Linked DNA regions of Homo sapiens. The protein of the gene in region 3 purifies or fractionates together with the protein of the main gene of each other region. This does not show direct contact. Each region holds a gene or a part of one and is shown on either strand. Other genes may lie near its edges.

Region 1 (7,037 bases), on a different chromosome or scaffold from region 3:
ACTCAAGAGGCTGAAGCAAAAGAATTGCTTGAACCCAGGAGGCGGTGGTTACAGTGACTTGAGATTGTGCCACTGCACTCCAGCCTGGGCGACAGAACAAGACTCCATCACAAACAAACAAACAACAAACTATGAAGAGAAAGAGTGGCTTGGTCACGATGTTGGCTGGCAGAGCTGAGTCTAGAATCCAGGGCTGCTAATGCTCACACCAACACCCTTCCCTGGGCCCCTGTTACTCCAGCAGTGTGTGGAATAACTGTAGTACCTGGAAGGGGACAAATGGGCTCATTCAAAATAAGGGTAATGGCCTTCCACCCACCAGGCTGGCCACCTTCAACCATCCCCTGCAAACAATAATGAGGTCAACTCATCCATCCGGGTCAGGGCCCCAGCAGGCCCTTAAAATGCCCAGGACACTCCTGATTTCCATGGTGGGTGCCTGGTGGGTAGAAAGACCAAATACACCTGGTGAGAAATACCAGGAATTAATTCAGCACTGCCACTCTCATCTTCAGCAAGGGAAGCAGGACCTACTGGACTTCGTCTCTGCCCCATCTCTGTGTGGGTCTTACCTGGGAGGAGTTTTCGGGCCGCCTCCTCAGCCATTCTCAGGAGAGGCCCGGAACAGGGCCATCCAGCCTCTACTTCCACCCCAGCCTTCTTGGAGAGCAGATGAGCAGACAGGAGTCCTCCTACCACTACAGATGGCACAGAAAGCAAATGGCACAGTCCAAAGGGAAAGACCAAGGGATCAAGGATCTTTCCCCTGTGCGAGTTAAACATAAACACTCTATTGTGGGGCGCATGTTCTCAGGACCTCCTGAAGCTATTTCACGGGTAAAAACAAACAAACAAAAACCTCACTCTGTTGGGGTGGCTCACTGGGAAGGAGCTAGAGCCACCCAGCGAAAAAAGAGTCCCTTAATCCCACATATTTCTATGGTGTTAAGTTTATGGGGTTTTCTTCTCTTGGTTCATCACAGGAACAGTGGCTATTTTTTGTAAGTCCCTATTGTGTACCAAGCACTAAGTACTACTGTCCCCTCTTCGTATGAAGATACTGAGGTTCCATGAGATAAAGTGACTTGCCCCAGGTCACCCATCTAGTAGGTGGTAGGGCTGAGTATCTTTGATTCCAAAGCCCATGCTCATTCCATTTGTCACTCTGTCTGTCTCCCAGTCACCTGTCATACCTGGGGGGAAGGGGTAATGATGGTTATTACCTTTATTTTACTAATTTATCTATTTCAACTTATTATGCAATATGTAGAACTTTTTTTTTTTTTTTTTGAGACGGAGTCTCGCTCTGTCACCTAGGCTGGAGTGCAGTGGCGCGATTTCGGCTCACTGCAAGCTCCGCCTCCCAGGTTCACGCCGTTCTCCTGCCTCAGCCTCCCGAGTAGCTGGGACTACAGGAGCTCACCACCATGCCCGGCTAATTTTTTTGGATTTTTTTTTTGTAGACACGGTGTTTCACTGTGCTAGCCAGGATGGTCTCGATCTCCTGACCTCATGATCCACCTGCCTCAGCCTCCCAAAGTGCTGGATTTACAGGCATGAGCCACCGCACCCGGCCTACTTAGAACTTTTAAAAAGACACAAAGGTTCTTGGAAATACAGCTAAATAGATATCCTGAGTGGCCCTCTCAATGAAAATAACTGGTGACCCTAAGTTTCAAAATTCCCCTCCTCCCTGCAGAGGGGGAATAGGAGACCAAGGTCAGACCTGCCCCAAGTGGAAGTCTGATAAAAGGTCCCTATGCAGGCCAGGCATGGTGGCTCACATCTGTAATCCCAGCACTTTGGGAGCCGAGGTGGAGATCACGAGGTCAGGAGATGGAGACCATCCCGGCTAAAATGGTGAAACCCTGTCTCTACTAAAAATACAAAATATTAGCTGGGCGTGGTGGCAAGCGCCTGCAGTCCCAGCTACTTGGGAAGCTGAGGCAGAAGAATGGCTTAAACCCAGGAGGTGGAGGTTGCAGTGAGCCAAGATTGCACCACTGCACTTCAGCCTGGGTGACAGAGTGAGACTCCGTCTCAAAAAAAAAAAAAAAAAGTCTGGGCACGGTGGCTCATGCCTGTAATCCCAGCACTTTGGGAGGCTGAGGCAGGTGGACTGCCTGAGCTCAGGAGTTCGTGACCAGCCTGGTAAACACGGTGAAACCCTGTCTCTATTAAAAATACAAAAAATTAGCCGGGCATGGCGTTGTGCGCCTGTAGTCCCAGCTACTCGGGAGGCTGAGGCAGGAGAATTGCTTGAACCCAGGAGGCGGAGGTTGCAGTGAGCTGAGATCATGACACTGCACTCCAGCCTGGGCGACAGAGCGAGACTCCATCTCAGAAAAAAAAAAAAAAAGAAAAGAAAGAAAGAAAAGAAATCTACATGTATGTACCTTATGGTAAAACTGCAGAACACCAAAGGGAAAAATGATCTCGAATGCAGCCAGAATCCATGTAATAATAATTATTAATGCTGGGTGATGGGCACGTCTGGTTCATTATGCTATTTTCTCTACTTTTATGTTTGAAGTTTTCCATAACAAAAAGTTTTTAAAAGGAGAAGACAGCCAAAGTGAAAACCAAAACAAGATTCTCTACAAATAAATAATAATTACATTGACAGATTACTTCTTAACAATAATGAAACCAGAAGATAATGGAAAAAGTTTTTAACACAATAAGAGAAAGTAACCATCAACCTAGAACCATACACCCAGCAAAAATATCACTCAAAGGCCAACCAAAGGCAGTTGAATAAAGACATTTTCATATAAACAAAAGCTGGGAATGTTTATGAAGCACACACCTGCATTAAAGGAAATTCTAAAGGAAATACTTTAGAGAAAAGGTCTGAGACACGAAAAGAAAAAATAGTCAAAAAAGTGGTAAATAGGCCAGGCACAGTGGCTAAACCTGTAATTCCAGCACTTTGGGAAGCCAAAGCAGGTGGATCACTCAAGATCATGAGTTTGAGACCAGCCTGGCCAATGTGGTGAAACACCATCTCTACTAAAAATACAAAAATTAGCCTGGTGTGGTGGTGCACAACTGTAATCCCAGCTACTCTGGAGGCTGAGGCAGGAGAATCGTTTAAACCCAGGAGGTGGAGGTGAGCCAAGATCGCGCCACTGCACTCCAGCCTGGGTGGCAGAGTGAGACTCTATTTCAAACCAACAACAACAAAAAAAGTGGTAAATTTATGTGTAAATGCAAAACTTCAACAATATAGAACAAAAATTATAATGTATGGAAGGTTTAAAACAAATAACTAAAATATATAACTGTAGCATATAGGTCAGGATGTTCTCTAAGTCAGGTTTTGCATTATTCAGGAGGAGAACAAAGATTTTCATTAAATTTAGACTTTGATAAGTTATGTTTGTTAAATTTGCTTGGAAAACTATGTAAAAAGCTAGATATTGTGCATAATTTCCATATTAGTAAGAGGAAAATGGAATGGGGGGAAAACAATCTAAAGAAGGCATGAAAAAGGACAGAATAAAGGAACATAAAGAAGATGGCACAGGGCCAGGTGCAGTGGCTCACACCTATAATCCCAGCACTTTGGGAGGCTGATGGGGGGCGGATCACCTGAGGTCAGGAGTTCGAGACTAGCCTGGCCAACATGGTGAAACCCCATCTCTACTAAAAATACAAAAATTAGCAGGGCACGGTGGCAGGCACCTGCAATCCCAGCTACATAGGAGGCTGAGACAGGAGAATCGCCTGAACCCGGGAGGCAGAGGTTGCAGTAAGCCAAGATTGCACCACTACACTCCCGCCTGGGCGACAGAGTGAGACTCCGCCTCAAAAAAAAAAAAAAAAAAAAAAAAAAGAAGACGGCACAGAGAGCACAATACTGTAGAAATGAGTGCAAATATATCAGTAATTACAGTAAATGTAAATGGATTAAATGTGCCAGTTAAAGATTGTCAGAATGGATAAACAAAATATAATACACTATTTGCAAAAGATGTATCTAATCATAAAACTACAGAAAGATGGAAAGGATAGAAAAAGATACATGGGAAAATGTCAACCAAAAGAAAGCTGGTATCACTTATATTCCTATCAGAAATAAAGGTATAAGAATGACCTTCATTTACAGATGACAAACTGGGCTCAGAAGCTGGGAGACATAGCAGCAAGTACAGCCTCAAACTCAGGCCGGATTCCTAAACCAGGATTTTAGACCATGTTGTCCCTCTGCTCTCTTCTCTTTTTTAATCTTTTATGGATCATATGTCTGGAATATAAGTTTCATTGCAGAAAACATACAAAATAATGGGGAAAAATAGAACTCTGCCATCCAGAGGTGACAGCTGTTAAGTGGTCTAGAGGTTCGATGCAAATAAGGGCTGTGCTGGCTTCACAAGAATCACTGGAAGTCTGCTAAAAATACTGATTCTAGGACCCAACACAGAGATTCCAATTCATTAGGTTTAGGGTGGAGTCTCAACATCTGAATTTTTTAACCACTTGGGAGTGGTTCCTATGGGCTGCCAAGTTTGGAAGATTAATGCTGTAGATTTGCACTGTCCAATACAATAATCACTAACTACATGTGACTACTTAAATTTAATATCATTAAAATTAAATGAAATTAAAAATTCAATTCCATAGTTGTAGTAGATACATTTCAAATGCTCAATAGCTCATGTGGTTCGTGGCTACCATACTGGACAAAACACAGCTATAAGACATTTCCATCACTGCAGAAAATTGGATTGGACAGACAATAAGTTCCAAGAAGGCAAGGATCATATCTTTCTTGTTCATAGCTGTATGCCTAGTATCAAATACATATTAAAGAGGTGAGTAATCTGGTGTATTTCTTTCCAGTCTCTTAGTCTCCTGCTCACTTTCATATCTGAAACTGATGGGGAAATCCTGAGACTTCCCCACCTCACCCTCCAGGAGGGAAGAAGAGCTCTGTCGGTCAGAGGTTTTGGCCAAGGGTCCTGGCATGGTCAGTCCTTAAAATCCTATTTACCACTTCTTGGTTTACAGAGGCAACTTCACACTCTTTTTTCTTTTAAAGGTCCTAGAGAGCAGCCCTTACCTCGAATGTTTGTTTCAAACACAGAGGCGTTCACATCAATATCAAAGTCCACGCTGTCCTGGAGCACTTCAACCACTCTTTGGAATTCTGAGACATTCCCCAAAATCTGGAAATAAAAAAGAGACCTGACAATGAGGCTCTTACATGCATGGAGGCAGATTCAGAGTCTGGGATCCTATGTTGATGTGGCCCTCACTAATTCCACTTAAGACCTCCAGTTTCTGTCCTAGGATTGGTGACAGCAGAAGAAAACACTGAGAGCTAGAAATCATCTAGAGACTTCATACCAAGAGACTGGTTAAGTAAATTCCTAGGTCCCAATTAAGAGTCACGATGTTGTCATTTAAATGGACACAATATAAAGAACGCAAACTACGCATAGAAGTCTTAGGTTTTTTGTTTCGTTTTTTTGAGACAGAGTCTCGCTCTGCTGCCCAGGGTAGAGTGCAGTGGCGTGATCTTGGCTCACTTCAAACTCCGCCTCCTGGGTTCAAGCGATTCTCCTGCCTCAGCCCCGAGTAGCTGGGATTATGCACCACCATGCCCGGCTAATTTTTGTATTTTTAGTAGAGACGGGGTTTCACCATGTTGATCAGGCTGGTCTCAAACTCCTGACCTCATGATCCACCCGCCTTGGCCTCCCAAAGTGCTGGGATTACAGGTGTGAGCGACCGCACCTGGCCAAAAGTCTTAGTTTGACATTTGCAGTAGATACCAGTTGTCACCTTCAACCTTGTGGAAAACAGAACAGGTTGGTTGGCCCAAAACAAATTCATTCCTACCCTCTTTACCTCATGGCCTCCCACCAGAGGTTGGAAATCCAGAAGCTTTCTCGGCCTCCTTTGCTGCTGCAGTTGATTGTGTTACCCAGTCAATTCTGACCCTTGAGAGGTCTACTGGGGGCACTTCTGGGAAGGCTTCTGTTTTCTTAATACCAAGGGACAAACACAGCTAACATGGCTTTTAGTCTCTCTCTTTCTGCCTTGAACTCAGACTCGATTTCTGAAGTGATGGCAGCTATGTGAGACCATGACGTACTAAGCATTAGAATAAAAGCCAAAACACTAACGATACTAGAATGCAAAGCTACAAAGAGGCTGGTCTCTAATGACACAGTTGCGTAGCTGACCCAATGCTAGAAATTACCTCTAGACTTTCTTTTACTTGAGAAAATAAACCCTCTTTATTTAAACCGTTAGCCAAATGCAATCTCAATCTCTCTTCTTTTGATAGTAACATCTCAATTTACCCTCGAGGAATCACTCTTCCCCGGCAGTCACTCCTGTGGTTTGGGAGAGGCTGATCCCATCCCTCTAGCTGTGGAGTGGGTACTTGACCTGAACCAGTCCAAGTCTTTTTTTTGAGACAGGGTCTTGCTCTGTTACACAGGTTGGAGTGCAGTGGTGTGATCATAGCTCATCACAGCCTCGAACTCTGGGACTTGAGCAATGTTGGCCTCCCAAAGTGCTGGGATTACAGGCATGAGCCACCACACCTGGCCCTTTTTACCTTTCTAAGCATCAGGTTTCTTTTATATCTTTTTTTTGTTTGTGTGAGACAGGGTTTTACTCTGTTACCCAGACCAGAGTGCAGTGGTGCGATCTCGGCTCACTGCAACCTCTGCCTCCCTGACTCAAACAATCCTCCTACCTCACCCTCCTCCCTAACAAATGGAGCCACAGACATGTGCCATCATGCCTAATTTTTTATATTTTTGGTAGAGACGGGGTTTCACCATATTGCCCAGGCTGGTCTTGAACTCCTGTGCTCAAGCAGTCCTGCCGCCTTGGCCTCCCAAAGTGCTGGGATTACAGGCGTGAGCCACTGTGCCCATCCCTAAGCATCAGGTTTCTTAACGATAAGAAGGAGTAAAGGTACTAACCTCAAGAAGTTGTTAGAAGAATTAATACATGTCTGTACTAAGCCCTACAGAAACATACTAACTAGTCACTGATATTATTTCTTTATAATT
Region 2 (7,670 bases), on a different chromosome or scaffold from region 3:
TGTGGGAAATCTACATTTCCATTTTTTTTTCCTTCTAATTATAGTCACTTAACTTCAGAGCCAGGCAGGAACAGAAATACTTACTTAGAAGCAAGGACAACTTAATTATCTCTTTGTGTCCTCACTTTTTAATTAGTTCTGCCTCAAGTGCCAAAGAAGCAAACCCAGCCCCATCTATATTTTAAAGAGGAACAGAAAGATCCATCTTTAATGCTTCCAAAATCTCACTGATGAGTATTATTTCTTAACCTGTGTTACACATAATTAAATACTAGCAATAAACAAAAAACCAACTCTCTAGTTCTGCAACAGCTCCCGAACTGTGGCCTACAGCATTGCAGCAAACTCTCAGGGTGTTGTGGAATATTTTAAATTTTCGAGGGAAACACAGTGATATTTGCTCAATACCTCAAAACTACTAGCTCCAGGTGGTTCACAGCTTGAACATTACATTGTGCTATATTCCTTTCAATGACATTATTTCTTTGTGGAGCTGACTTTTAAGCAGCTGTTAGCAGTTGCTGTAATAAAAAACAAGAACAATGCTAAAAATCTACCTAGAACAGGAAATGAGGGTGGAAGTGTCCAATCTGATTCCAAGGTTTCAGACACTGGTGTAATGACCAACAGAGATACATTTCCCATTAGTAGTTATGGCTGTTTAAGAACAAAATAAACATATTATTTTTTTCTTTCAATTATGTTATCTTCTCAAATAGCTACTAAGTTGTTAGGACATAACTACTTATTAGGTTGTGTCAAAGGAAAATAAATCTCAGAACCCAAAATCACTAAGTCAAAGGTTAAAGTCAAGCTGGGAACTGCCTCAGACAAACCTGCCTCCCATTTTATTCCTAAATAAGATAGCTACAAAGAAAAAGAAGCTACATATCACCCTCATAATTTGCCCACATGGGCCTCAAGATCTTTACCCTAAAACACTTCTGTTGAATTTCACCCTGGCAATGTATTCATAAATTGATAGCTCATCTTCACAAGTGCCAAACAAAAGACAGAACTCTAAAGTCATCCTTCTGCTCACCTGAGATAAATGCTTATCTGATTGCTGACTCTGCCGTATTGTTTATGTGAAAATGCAGACTCACTGAGCCAGTCTAAGACATAAGTGATTATTCCTCTATCCCTCCTGCACATGTAAATTGTATTCAGTAAAAGGCTAATCAAAGACCCAAAAGAATGCAACCTTTTGTCTCCCATCTACCTATGACCTGGAAGCCCCCACTTCGAGTTGTCCCACTTTTCCAGGAGAACCAATGTATACCTTACATATGTGATTGATGTCTCATGTCTCCCTAAAATGTATAAAACCAAGCTGTGCCCCGACCACCTTGGGCACATGTCCTCAGGACCGCCTGAGGTTCTGCCACGGGTGCATCCTTAACCTTGGCAAAATAAACTTTCTAAATAAATGAACTGGGAAATATTTCTGGCCTAAGGGCATCATGAAAAAATTACTGAGAAAATTTGGGAACCTCTTCTCTAGACTCAAGAGACTCTACGTCATATAGGCACCTTTCTTGTCCCAGCTAATTTTAAATTTCACTCTTCTGAACAAATGCCCTCTGAATGCCAGTTATCCCTGCAAGAAACTCTTCTACCTCAATCTCAACGGAGAACATCCACTTATGTGGAATTACTTACCATTTGCACAAAGAAATCCTCACACCTCACTGCCAGGCAGCAGGAGGAAAGAACAAGGGTTAAAAGCAAGTGTTCTGGAGACAGACCACAAGCAAGTTTCTTAGCCTTCCTATGCCTCAGTTTCCTCGCGTTGTAAAACAGGGATGATAATAATGCCTACTCCACAGGGTTACTGTGTAGCTTCAATGACAGTTATAGGCAAGGACACTTCATTTTCATTTAAGACAAAAAGGAAAATCTGAAATGCTTGGCACAGCTCCTGGCATACAGATCTTCAATAATGCTGGGTGTTATTTTTATTCCTGTCTCTGTATGGAGCATGACCACTGGGTTCCAAAATGTATTCTACTTGGAAATCAGGCCACAGTCCCGTTAAGGATGGTGCTGAGTTTACTGGTGGCAGCGAGCTCCTTACCCCAGCAGAAAAGGGGCAGAGGCCGGGGGAAGGAGAACTTTTTTTAAAGGACTGATATGAGGTCCTTAGCTAGCAACTTCCCCCAGTGCTCAGGGGTTCTGAAGACACAGCTTGGTGCAAATTCACTTCTGACACAGGAAAAACAATTCAGAGGCCATGGATCTACTTCGGGGCGGTCCTCACGTAACGAAATGAAACGTTCAGAAACTGGTTTATTTATTTTTCTCTTGGGCCCATTTCTTTTTCGACATCCTTAGAGGACAGAAGGCAGCCCTCCCAGTTAGTTTCTCTTTCCCTCTCAACCCTGCAGCTTCCCGGCCGCCTCAAAGTGGCTTTTTGGACTCCTCTCAGCCTCAGCGGTTCCCAAGGTGACACCCTGAACCCCAGGGCGGTCCCTCGCGGCTCAGCCCCAGCCCGCAGTCCCCTCCCACACCGTGCCCAGGCCCTCCCCACCAGCCCGGCCCCCCGAGGCCCACACCTGGAGCATTTCCTGGCAGAAGGCGCGCACCGAGCGCAGCGAGGCGAGGTCCAGCTCCCGGACTATGAGCTCGCCCACCCCGCTGACGCCAGGCTCTGGGCCGCACTCCGCGGCCTGGCGGAGCTCGCGGCGGAGCTGACCCGCCGCCTCCTCGGCGCGCGCGCGGTCCCGGCAGCCCATGATCACCCGCGCTCCCAGGCGCAGTAGCTCGGCGGCCGTGGCGCGGCCCAGGCCGCTGTTCGCCCCGGTGATCAGCACAGTCTTCCCGTGCATGAGGCCGGGGTCCCCGCCTCTGCGCAGCCGCTGGACCCTGGGCCCCACGAACCGGCGGGCCGCCAGCCACAGCGCCCCGCCCAGAGCGGCCAGTACTGCCGCCGCAGTGGCCACTGCCATCGTCAGGCCCGAGGGCCCACCGGCCCCTCCACGGGAGTTCCGCAGCCGCCGCCTTACCGGAACCCAAGAGACCACCTGTACGCGGAGAACGCTGGGGCGCGGCGGGTCGGCCCCTGACGGTGCGCGTGGGGCATGCTGGGACTTGTAGTTTCCCTCTGGGGGGGTCGCCTGATTGGTTGTGAGAGTTCAGCGCCCTGGGTCCTGCGCCCTCCGTGGAAGCTCCTCCCAGCCTAATGATGGAGGCTGGGCAACCAGCACAGTGTTCAGGGTGCTGGGGTTCATACGTATTGAAATCCCAGAGTAGTGGCGGACTTCCCCATGGGAATGTCTGATGAGTACTTTGAATCACAGATCTCTGTACAGGCCCTGTTACAAATGCCACTCCTCAGGGCATTTCGTGTGTTTTCCTTTGAGGGCTCTTGGGACTTGTAAATTCAGTTCAATTCACCTTCTGAGGAATGGGCCCTGACAAGCTGAAGTCTGAGGTAGGACTGTTTTTCATAGATGAGACAAAGAATTAAGCAACATGAATCAGTTGGAAATAGAATGGTCGAGTAGTTCTCAAACTTAAATGCACATCAGAATCACCTGGAGGACTTGGGGTGGGGGTTCGGGGTGGGGGAATGAAACAAAACGAAAACAAAAAACCAGGGCCCCAGTATTAGAGTTTCTAATTCAATAGGTACAGGATGGGGCCTGATAATTTGCACTTTTAACAAGTTTCCAGGTGCTGCTGCTGCTGCAGATCTGGGAACCACACTTTGAGAACCACTGAACAAGACATTATGTCATTGGTCCCTATTAAAAAAAAGAAAGCCATCTTCAAATGATCTTCACACTGGCAGAGGTACAGTGGGAAAAGCTTGGACTTATTGTAAATATAGGCTTCTGAGCAGGCCATTTACAAATGCCTCCCTGCCCTCTCCATAGGACTATTACACACAACGATGGAAGGCAAAGTGCTTGGCTCACTGTAAAATGCCTCATTAATATCAGGGTTAGTGTCACAGGGACCCTTCTTCAAGCTACAAACTTCATAGCTGTAGACCAAGCTACTTTTAAAGACTCATTCGTTCGTCTGCCTCTCCATCCAATATGTGCCTGGCCCTGCCTGTTCCCTGTTAGAGCCACAGAGAAATGGGACACCATTTCTGCTCTCAGGGTGCTTACTTTCTGGAACTGTGATCTCCCACTTCCCACCCTCCACCCATTGCAGGTTCTCCAGACAAGGAAAAAGAACCACAGCTTGTGTCGTTTGAGACAAACTCCCCAATAATTGTGATAATCCATCTTCCACTCCCTTACATTTGGGAAGGATGTAACATGCAACTAATAGTCAGAATACAAAGAAAAAGGGATGGATTCCAGGAGGTTTCTTATGAGTAATGAGAATGGAGCTCAGAGGTGGGAAAGAGCACTCTTACTGGGGATTATACAAGGCACCAGGAACAGGAATCATGAGAGGTGGTCCTACACCACCCTATCCCCAATTTGAAGCTGCTACTCAAACTCATTGATCCCCCAGCATATGTTTCCACTTTATTGTCCTTTCTACCCATCCACATCTTGCCCATCCATCAAAATCACAGGCTACCTCAAGTCTTTCTTTCCTGACCACTTCCAGCCTATAAAGATCTCTGCTCCCTTCATGTGTGACCCTCAGGGTCATGTGTGACCCTCACTGGCACTGAAGACAAACAGCCTTCTAGTATTGGCTGTTTGAGTTTGCACATTTGACTTCCTTGACCAGATTGTTAAGGTTTCAAGTTTCCTAGAGGATAGGATTGTGTCTGCGTACCTCTTGTGGTCTTTGCATGGGAGGACACCTACAAAATGGTAGGTACTCAGTGTCACATGTCACAACTGATATATTTTGGACTGGTTTACATAAAATTAGGGAGCATCAGAAGATGTGTTTCAGCTGTGGTCTTCTCTCATCTAGAGCCAGGGGTGGAATACATATGTACAGGTGGAGTAGAGATGAAGGTGGAGGTAGAGAGAGCAGGAGAGGGTAGGAGGAAAAGAGGAGGGAGGAATCCTTAGACCTGCAGTGTAACTGCTGTGTAGTTTATGCATGGAACTTAATGAAATGATTAATCTGTACCAGATGGGTCCAAAGGCCATGAAATTAATAACTCTATTTGGAAGGGAGGAAAGAGACCTCATTATAACTTATGAAGTAAGATTTGAATTTGAATCTAATTAGTCTTAACACTTATTAGCTCCATATCCTTAAACAAGCTGTCTAATCTTTTTGAATCTTAGGCTCCTCATTGATAAAAAGGAAGGTAATAATAATACTATGTCACAAACATTTAATTTGATAAGAAAATGAAGTAACATGTGAAAATAACCAGGTCACTGTGCCTAACATATGATATATTTAATGACCAACCAATTTTTGTTGAAAACAAAACAAAAATCATGAGAGAATGACAATGAAGGGCCAGGATACTACACTTCATGTCACTTTTTGAAGTGGTAGCGTAGGGTCTTTTTTTTTTTTTTCCATACAAATATGGATGTGCCAGCCTGCCAGGCCCAAAGCCGGAGACTTCAAATATGAAACTCTGTGGATCAGAGGCATTTAACCCACCAAATAATTTTCAGAGAACCTTTCTTAGGGGTTTCTGTTTAAGGCTTATCTTAGAAAGTACCCTGGAGGAACAACCAGATGATTTATTTCTAAATGAGCAGTATCAAAATTGTTATACTCATGCAGGTAGAGTGAAATTCTCATTTTGCTTTGGTTACAAAGCTAGCCATAGCAGTCACAGAATACAAAGCTCCAGTTTTCAAGAGTGTGCTTAACCATACTCCTTCTACCTTTGAAGACACTATTCTACAATGCTGATGGGTAACAATTCATTGTTATCTACAAACATCCAAAAATGAGCAGTGTTTATAAAACTAAGTAAGCTTCTAAAACAGTGCCTTAAGCATGCAAATATTCAAGTTCTAAACTTATCCTAAAGAGTCATCATTATGACTTACACAGAGATAGGTGTAATGGCATTCAACAGTATTGGTAGTTCAAAGAGAAGTAGTTTGATGGTAACTTGAGGGTTCAAAAGGTTTTCCAAAAAATCAGGAGAAAACCTTTCCAAAGAAGCAAAGTTTTAAGGTCCAATTTTCTGAAATACCTATCTAATTATCCTAGAGAGCCAAAAGAAGTGGCTTCTGTAACACCAGACTATCACCACTTTATTTCTCCTCCCTGCCCCTAACTACTGAATTTTTTATTAAAGCCATAAGCTGCGATGGAACCTAACCTCTGTGCCCCTTCAATGTGGAACATGTGGTCATCAAAGAAGATGTGGGGCCGGATCTTCACCAAGATGGGACTTTTGGGGGCTCCAGCAAGGAAAAGAGCTTCGTCTATCTCTAGACCCCAGCGTCGAAGGGTCTTCAGCACACGGGCGCCTGAACTGGCTGCACTCCTAGCTGTAACCAGGTAGGTCCTGATAGGACAAAGTAACCGTTCATTTTTGGCATAGAACTTCTTTTGCAGTCTGCCTAAATCTTCCAGAAAGCCTTTTAGGGGACCCTGTAAAAGGAACATATATCACAGCTGTGATACAGTGAGCCAAAGAAAGTGAATGCTAAAAAGCAGAGACCTATATGATACGATACAATACAAAGGATATAATACAGCATGACATGCAGTGTTATGAAGCTGATGGCAAAATGCTAAAACTTGATAGGAATTTATGTGAATATGTTTTCTGATATAGAACCATCCTTGCATTCCTGGAATGTGCCTAAAATGACCATATTATTTAACATGTAAACCTATATACTTTAGGTATGAAAGAATGTTCAATAAATACTTAAGCCAGGACAACAGACATAAACTATCCATGGTAAGCTGGAATAGAGGGTCACTCTAAATAAACTCTAATTAGTTACCAAAGCACTACTCTTTTAATTTGCTTTTTGTGAATTGTGCATTTTAACTTTATGAAGTATATGCTTTTGTCTAGTTTAATGCTGTTTGGCTTGAATCTAACTGTGTCTTTCATTTTTAACCTTTCCAAACACTTGGTTTTAGTATCTCTTGTACAGAGCCTAGAATTGGATTTTGCTATGTGATACAACCTGAAAATCTTATTTTTTAAAACAATAGTTAAGTTTTTGTTCATTTACATTTATTCATATTACAAACATACTTGAGATTGTTTCTGTCTTATGGTTTTTATTGCATTTTCCATGTTTTAAAATTTTTAAAGGATTGTTCAATAATCTGTGTCTTTCTTCTTTGTAGTTGTGTGTGGGTGGTTCTTCTGACATTTAAGAAGGTTTACATTATTTCCTTCTATAAATTACCTTTACAACTATAACCTTTTATAGTACCCTCAGTCCTCTATTTTAAAAAGAATCCCAGATCTATTATTCTTCATAATGAGAAATAATGAAAGCAGGGCATTTCTTCAATGTCTCTGTAGTCCTCTATTTCTTCTCCACCATCTAATTTTAGTCATTTATTTACTTTTCCTTGGTGTTTCTTTTGCATTATTACATTTTGTTTTATTTCTGTTTATCAAGTTTACATTTCATCCTTTGATTGGCTATTGTAACTGAAAATTCCAGCATACTTCTTCCGTAGACCTTCTTTCCCCATATTTTTCCATTTTTTGTTAGTTACATAATTTGTACATCATACAAATTTGTTCATTTGTACGGTTGTTTTAGTTTTAATTCTATGGTTAAGTATATTATATG
Region 3 (7,439 bases):
GGTCTTATTATTTAAGAGAAAGAGTTGAATCACCAAAAATACACTGCGCAGTGGGGAAAACAAAACACTAACCAGGAAACCTCAACTAAGCATCCCAGTCAGCAGAAAGTGCCCACGCAGATGTCTCAAGTCCCTCCAGATTACCTCTTGTTTGTGAGTTGGGGAGGGATTTCAGAGCAGTGCCTCAAGGGAGTGTATCATTTTTCTGTGATGCTCTCCAGTGGCCAGCCTGTGTCTTGGGAAAGGGGATCAGGAGAAGGTGATGACACAGGGTTGTTCTTTGCCCTTTGGCCTTGTTCAGTAAACAACCTGTCAGGAGGCCAGAAAGGAGCACGTAGAAGATAATTTTGAGGGCCAAAAAGGGAAGATGCTCCCCATCTTTGAGACCAGCCCCATGCTGACAGAGCAGGAACCTTCCTCCTTCCCCAGCCCTTTTCTCCTCACCTCCTTTCTTGTGCCCACACTGCAGCACACATCACTCCATTCTGGGAGACAAAGCCAGCTCCATTTTTGGTGAAGAGGGGAAGTAAGAGTCAAGAATGCTCCTGTCTTCTCCATGGCTGCAGCCCAGCTGTCAAACACTTTGGCGCCAGCTGACCTCCAGAAGGGGAGACTATGGTGTGACATTTGCTTCCTTTATCTCAAATATTTCACAATATACATGCTCTGTGCCTTTTCAAATTATATCCTCCTCAAAGAAGCAAGGCATGCATCTTTTCCTAGAGTAGGCAGCAGCTCTGATATTGATAAGACAGGATCATTGTGGCAGCATGTCTCGGTCATGCCCTCAGTGCTGCAAAGCAACTTATTCTGGGTGAAGGGGGACTCCAGAGGGTCATGCCTTAAACAAATAACATACACACAACTGTGTGAGTCAGGAGGGAAAGCACACAAACTCCAGCATCACTTTGCTGTTGCCTGATGTCATCAGACTGCCCCCCGGGGGATTTGGTATACTTTAGTTGCTTGGTTAATACTGGCATTGCATGTATTTTAGCGAGCATGGTCAGAGAGAGTCACTTCAACATGCACATGTCTGGAGAAGGACAGAAGCAGAAATACTTGACTTATAATATACCTTTTATCCCTCTGATTGGTCTATGCTGACATAACAATGTCCCTGCTGAATAAGGCCTAGATTACCCAACTATAAGCTTGACCTTTTATAATTGTTATCCTTTTAACAAAACATTTGTTTCTGCTCATAGCACCCTGCTCCTAGGGCTGCAAAGAGCACACACACAATTCTTTACAGAGGGGTCTGTTCAATCACATTACAGTGCATTAGCTTGAACATTGGTTAACATTTGGCTTAGGTCTATATACCCTGGATAAATATGTACCATGCAGAGGGACTGCTTGGTGAGGAGAAGAGTCCTCTGGGCTGGAACAACAGCTCACAAGTTCGTGTTCCTACTAGGCAGGAACACTCCAGGCATCCGTGATTTGGACAGGGTGCTGGACATGCTTGGTTCTTCTGTGGGCAGCCTGTTTCCTGCATACAGCTGTGAGCACAAGCACACATACATACACACACCACAGGCAGCATTCGACAGTGTACCCAGATGATCACAAAAACAGAGACAGAGATCTGCTAGATGATACCAGCACATCCCACCTTTCAGCACAGCAATGTTCTTCCCTAGTGTCTCCAGTGCTCTGCCAGGCTCAAGTCAATCAATGGGGCTTCTGCCACCACCCTGGGGAGACTATTTGCAACCTACAGGGTTCACTGTTTGGAATTTTATTTTCCTGACTGCATGTGCATGGGAAACATGCCATAGGGCTCTATGAGCACGATAATATAGATATCGTGCATTGTAACCTCAGCTCTTTGGGCTCCTTCCCAAACATAATGAACCTCCCAGCGTCAGCTGGGCAGGCAAAAGTCCTCGTCATCTTCTGCAATTATGCAGCCCTATTGAATTTTCTGAAGCTAATAGGAGTTGCACTAACTTTGAGGACTTAAACCAGGCAAAAGCAATATAGGTCAGGCAGGGAGCCCAAACCCTCTGACAGCCATGCAACACCAGGAGGCAATACCAGAGCAATCTCTAGCTCAACCCCAAAGTCCATTGCTCAACTCCACAAGACAGAAACTAGGAGAGGTGGCATCATTCCCTCTGCCTGCCACTGCCAGGCACCAGGGCAAGAGGGTTGTATGAGAGCAAAATGGTCCCTTTACCAACGGACACACCAAAAAGGACAATGAAAAGGGGAGAAAAATCACCGAAACCCTGCACTGTTACCTTGAATCCTTGCAAGAGCCCTCCTTGCTGTATCAGCTGCTCCCCAAACCTTCAACGACTGGGAGGAGACTCCTAAAAGATTCCAGGTTTTTGTGCAACATCTCCAGTGGCAGCTTTCCAAAGTTTTTACTTCATGATTTCTTGTGGTTCTTTCTCATTTGGGGAAACGCGAATGCCTCCCCCTCAGCGTGTGAGAGGGAGCGGATGTCTCTTTTCAAATTCTCTTGCTCCCCGCTTTACTGTCGGTGCCGCCGCCGCCGCCACCGCCACCGCCGCCAACGTTAGACCACTTGCCTGCTGCCTTCCCGCTGAGCAGCCAGGATCCCGGTCTCCCAGAGCATCTTTGAAGTGGGGCTTCGGCACTGGGCCGGGGCGCACGCGGGGTGGGAGAGGTAAGGGAAGTGCAAGACCCAACTGGGGGAGTCCCCTGTCCCTCCGCCGAGGAGAAACCCAAGATTTTGCCTTCTTTCCAACTCTAAAGAGACTCACCCACCCGCTCTCTCACCCGAAATCACTGCCTTGCACATGGGCAGAGACAGGTCTTCCGGCTTCACCGCTCCCTCGGCTGCCTGCAGACCTGCCACTGACCTCGGAGCGCACGGCAGGTGCACATCCCCGGGCAAGTCCTAATGGGATCCTCCGAGCTCAGCGTAAGCGCTGCCAGCGCAGCGGCGAGCAGCTTGCGAGGCAGGCGGATTGCATCCCAGAGCTGCAGCCCGGCGCGTCCCCGCTCCGACTCCGCGCTCCGTACCTAAGCAGTGTCACCTGCAGACTCAGACACCAGATGAGTGTCTTAAGATAACAATGCTGCCCTGCCTGCCTCTCTCTTTCTTTCTTATGCATGTAGGTTGGCAGCCAATGGGACACAGCGCCACACTCCCCACAGGTGCCCATTGGCTGGGCGGCTTGGCAGGGGGCGGGCTCTGAGCCTCACCGCTCTCTCCTTTGGTGAGCTGGCAGGCTGGGGTACCAGCTCTGTTAACCCTCCCAGCGTTGCAGTGGGGACTTTTTGGTGTGTATAAGGAAGCCTTGGGTACATTCACGGGTGGGGCGTTGGACACTCTTAAAAAGGCTGGGGAACAAGAAGTAGCTGGGGAGCTAATTACATTTTCTTCTAATCTTCCTGAGTTACAATAATCATTTATCCCAGCCCATTTTGTTTGCTTGCTTAACTAGAACTCCCAGAGATTGGGACCCATCTGAGCCATTTTCCATCTAATTTGAGGTTTCATTTGGTTGTTTTGTGCATTTTTTAGCCTCTTGGATTACTTAATTAGAAATGAGCCCCCAAGTGAGAAATAGTACACACACACACACACACACACACACACACACACACCCCAGAGACCCAAGAGGAGAGAGAGGCAAAAGAGAGCAAGAACCCAGTAAGATGGCTAGAGAGTGAAACAGATTTAGAGGCCAGGACAGCTAAATCAGGAAACATTCTGCCCCCACACCAGGACTGTAAGGACAAAGGCAAAGAGGAGAACTTCAGGTTTCTGGGGAGAGATTAAGTTTCAAAAATGTCCCTCCAAAAAAGGGAATTGTTTTGCCTGTGGTGTTTTCCCTCTGTGTGTCTCCTTTCACTTCTGTGTGTGTCAGGAAGAGGGACTGTGCATCTCCGTTTAGTTTTTAAAGGAAGACTAGAGAAATCAGAACAGGACCAGCCTTGTTTCTGTGAAGCAGGTGCTGTTGCTGGGCCTGTGAATTGAAAGAGAGGGAGGGAGGAAAAAAGGGAGGGAGGTGGAGGGAAAAGGGAGGAAAGGAGAAGGGAAGAAAATATTAACTTTACATTGAAGTGTGAAGTATATATTTTTGATATCCTAATGAGGGTACAAAACTGAAACATGTCCCGCTAACTAGCATACTAAACTAGATTTTGGCAGGAGCATAGGAAAAAGAGTAATAGTTGAAGAAAAATCCAATTCAAGGGAAGAGCTGGGGGCTGGAGCTGGGGAAGGAACTTGGGAGATCCATGCTAAGTCATGTGGTGGGGGAAGTATGAAGAAGATAAATATATAGTCAGAAAGCGAGAGGAGTCTTTCAATTTAGTTTCCTTAAATGGAGAGCAACATCGGAGATTATTTTGTAAAGAACTAGAAAAAAAAAGTATGTAGAGATTTAATGAATGTGTAAGAAGTACACATGGAGATTAGCTAAACTGCATCAAGTAGCCGTAAGTTCTGAATGAATAAAGAAAAATTAGAAATTTTCTTCATTCATCCCCTCAGACTCACACATCTATCACTTTCACCTATATTTTCTTCTCTGTATCTTATACAACGTTGAACTTCCTTCTGCATACTGCAAGTATCTGTTTGCCTAAGCTACAAAACATGTCAGAGAATGGTGGTCCCACAGGGTCCTGAGCTCTCTTTCTAGAATAAAATAACCAAGAGAACCACTGAGAGCCTAAATCTATTGCTACCCAACTGCTGAGTTATTTACTTTTGTGATTTCTAGAGGCAGAGACCCACTGAACTTGTCCCAAGTGACAACATACTGAAATGTTAAAATAGCATAAGGGAGTGGGTAAATAGAGGGAGAGGTTGAACAAAGGATTGCTAATTTCAATGGAAAGAAAGTTAAAATTTCCAAAATCTGTAAAAGAGAGAGGAAAGAGGTGATGGCAGATAAGAAGACAACTTGAAAAAGAAAACTTGCTTGTACTTTCTTCTCCTATAAAGTCTGAAGCCGTGTAAAAAATTTTAAAGAGGCAGAATATACATTAAGAATTGCCACAAGTGTATAGTTTAATTCTTGCCTATATATGCATCAATGTAACCATTACTCACTTTATTTCCAGCACTGCAGGAAGCATGTTCGTGAACGTTCTCAGTCAAAACCCTCCACTCCCCAGAGATAATTATATTCTGACTTCCATCACCAAAGATTAATGTTACTTGCTCTTGAACTTTGTAAATATAGGATCTTAGAGTATACACTCTTTTGTGTCTTGATCCTTTCACTCATCATTTTGTCTCTGAGATTTATCCATGTAGTTGTATGTTTTATTGCGGTGCACCACTCTATTACATGACTACATGGCATTTATTCATTCTGTTCTTGATAGATATTTGGGATGTTTCTGGGGTTTTTTGGCTATTATAAGTAAACTTGTTATAAATGTTTTTGTGCTTGTCTTTTGGTGGATGTATGCAATCATTTCCTCTGGGAAAACACCAAGGACTATACATTACTTAATTTGCTTTGACTACTACACTGGAGAAAATCTCATGAAGATGACTCTGAAGCCTATTATCTTGCCAAAATAATTGAATAAGGTGATAGTGGCAAAGGCTATCGCTACTGAGTGCCAACTAAATGCCTAAAATGTGTCACATTGTTTACATACATAATCTCATTTCCTCCTCACAACCACCCCCAAAACTATGTATTATTCCTGTTTTGCAAATAAGAATATTGAATTTAAGACTTTGTATTAGGAAATAGCTCTTGCTTTCCTGAGTGTATGTGTATGTATATGTGTAGATGTTGGGGGAGATGTAAATAAATGCCCAGGGAATGGAGCTAAAAGAAGGGAAGTGATGGAAGTTCTCACTGCATAGGTGCAGCTGCAGATTAGCTTGGAGAGATGGGACAATCTGAAGAATAAAGAGTGTTGCACTTCAGGTGGACAGAATGTTATGGGAGGAGTGAAAATAGGAAATAGATTTTAATTTGATTGAGAGATGTGTGTGTCTGTGTGCACATGTGTGGTGGGAGGATAGAGATATAGTGCAGTGAGCAAACTATCTAAAAAACAGTGTGAGATTAGAAGAGTTTTAAAATTTCTAAACCATGGGTTTTCAGCTTTATCATGTAGAAAAAGAAAAACTAGAATGACATAATGAAAGTTAGATTTCATGAAGATCAACCTGGTAGTTGTGTACAGAATGCGTTGCTAGGAGGAAAAGGAATCAAAATCTATTTTAATAGTCAAGGAAAGAGGCCATTGGTGCTTAAATACAGGAAGGTGTATCTCAGGAGAAAAGTGAAGATTGGAGATAACAGCGCTTGCTGTTTTACAGTGTTTTAAAGAATAGAAATTTTCTGAGAATGAATAAATGCCATGTAGTCATGTAATGGACTAGTACACAGCAATACAATATTGAACTACATGGATAAATCTCACAGACATAATGATGAGTGAAAATATTAAGACACAAAAAAGCATATACTCTAAGATTCTATATTTATAAAATTCAAGAGCAAGTAACATTACTCTTTGGTGATGAAAGTCAGAAACATTTTCTGTGACCAGCAGGGGTGAGCGGAGATGATTGGCCCCTTTTGTTGATGGGGAACTAAAGACAAGAATGGTCCAAGCTTATCTCCAAATAAGAATATTATGAAGTTAAGTCTTGAATCCAGTTCTATTATTTCACTATATCATTATGCCTCTACACAAAGGTGATGATTGAGATGCATAACATTTTCCCCCATCTCCTCTAAATGTAAAACATCATGCATTAGAGATGGCCTGGTTTCCATGTACTTCAACCTTTACCCACATCTCTAGGTATTTAATTCCCTAAGAAAGGGCCATGTGACATTATTTCCATTTTTACAGGAATCAAGTACTCTGGAATAATATATTCTCTTTTAAAAAATTCTACTGTTTCTTTTGTTTGGTTTTGTTTAGAGAGGTCTAGAAAGACTTGAGATACCAACTACCAACTATGCCCAACTCAATATACATTTTAAGAAGACTAGATATTGACTTATTGGAAAATCAACCCTAAATGGTTTACTTGGGCTTTCTAACATGACTCAAGAATCTTCAGAAAATTAGAAAGAAAGATTTCAAAGTGACAGTAGATTATATGCTACTCAAAAGCAGGAGTAGTATTTTTCTGGCTGTGCTTAGCCTAATGCTTATGATACAGTAGGTACACAAACATTTGCTGAATTAATTACTGTGGTCCATAAAGCCCAGTGATTATCCATGGGTGCACCCTAGTGTACCATAACCATATAGTGGAAAGAGCAGTGGGCAAAGAAATCTTGTTCATGGTCTTAGCTCCATAGAAGATAGATCACTCTTTAATGGGTCTCAATTTCCTTATCTGTTAAGTGAGAGATTGGATGAATACATGATCAGGTACTTACATGCCATTTCTCACATTCTAGTATCAAGGGTGTGTTCCTGACATCCACTATAATTATTCAATGGCAAATAACCTTGCA

Evidence for each region. The genes of interacting proteins can lie anywhere in the genome.
Region 1: the proteins of BRINP2 (region 3) and EDEM2 purify together in Homo sapiens (affinity purification with mass spectrometry; 2 studies listed by BioGRID and IntAct, with this or other methods). This does not show direct contact.
Region 2: the proteins of BRINP2 (region 3) and RDH14 purify together in Homo sapiens (affinity purification with mass spectrometry; 2 studies listed by BioGRID and IntAct, with this or other methods). This does not show direct contact.

The regions. Positions count from the first base shown.
Region 1 is NC_000020.11:35,137,308-35,144,344, forward strand, and holds part of EDEM2 (ER degradation-enhancing alpha-mannosidase-like protein 2 isoform 1 precursor), read right to left. Parts: intron 5,172-7,037; coding exon 5,066-5,171; intron 699-5,065; coding exon 573-698; intron 1-572. Other genes in the region: MMP24-AS1-EDEM2 (ER degradation-enhancing alpha-mannosidase-like protein 2), read right to left, coding at 573-698, 5,066-5,171. UniProt on the Homo sapiens protein: Involved in the endoplasmic reticulum-associated degradation (ERAD) pathway that targets misfolded glycoproteins for degradation in an N-glycan-dependent manner.
Region 2 is NC_000002.12:18,557,625-18,565,294, forward strand, and holds the start of RDH14 (retinol dehydrogenase 14), read right to left. Parts: upstream 3,030-7,670; 5' UTR 2,949-3,029; coding exon 2,556-2,948; exon of another isoform or gene 2,552-2,555; intron 1-2,551. Other genes in the region: NT5C1B (cytosolic 5'-nucleotidase 1B), read right to left, coding at 6,172-6,495. UniProt on the Homo sapiens protein: Retinol dehydrogenase with a clear preference for NADP. Displays high activity towards 9-cis, 11-cis and all-trans-retinol. Shows a very weak activity towards 13-cis-retinol. Has no activity towards steroid.
Region 3 is NC_000001.11:177,166,543-177,173,981, reverse strand, and holds the start of BRINP2 (BMP/retinoic acid-inducible neural-specific protein 2 precursor), read right to left. Parts: upstream 3,025-7,439; 5' UTR 2,250-3,024; intron 1-2,249. UniProt on the Homo sapiens protein: Inhibits neuronal cell proliferation by negative regulation of the cell cycle transition.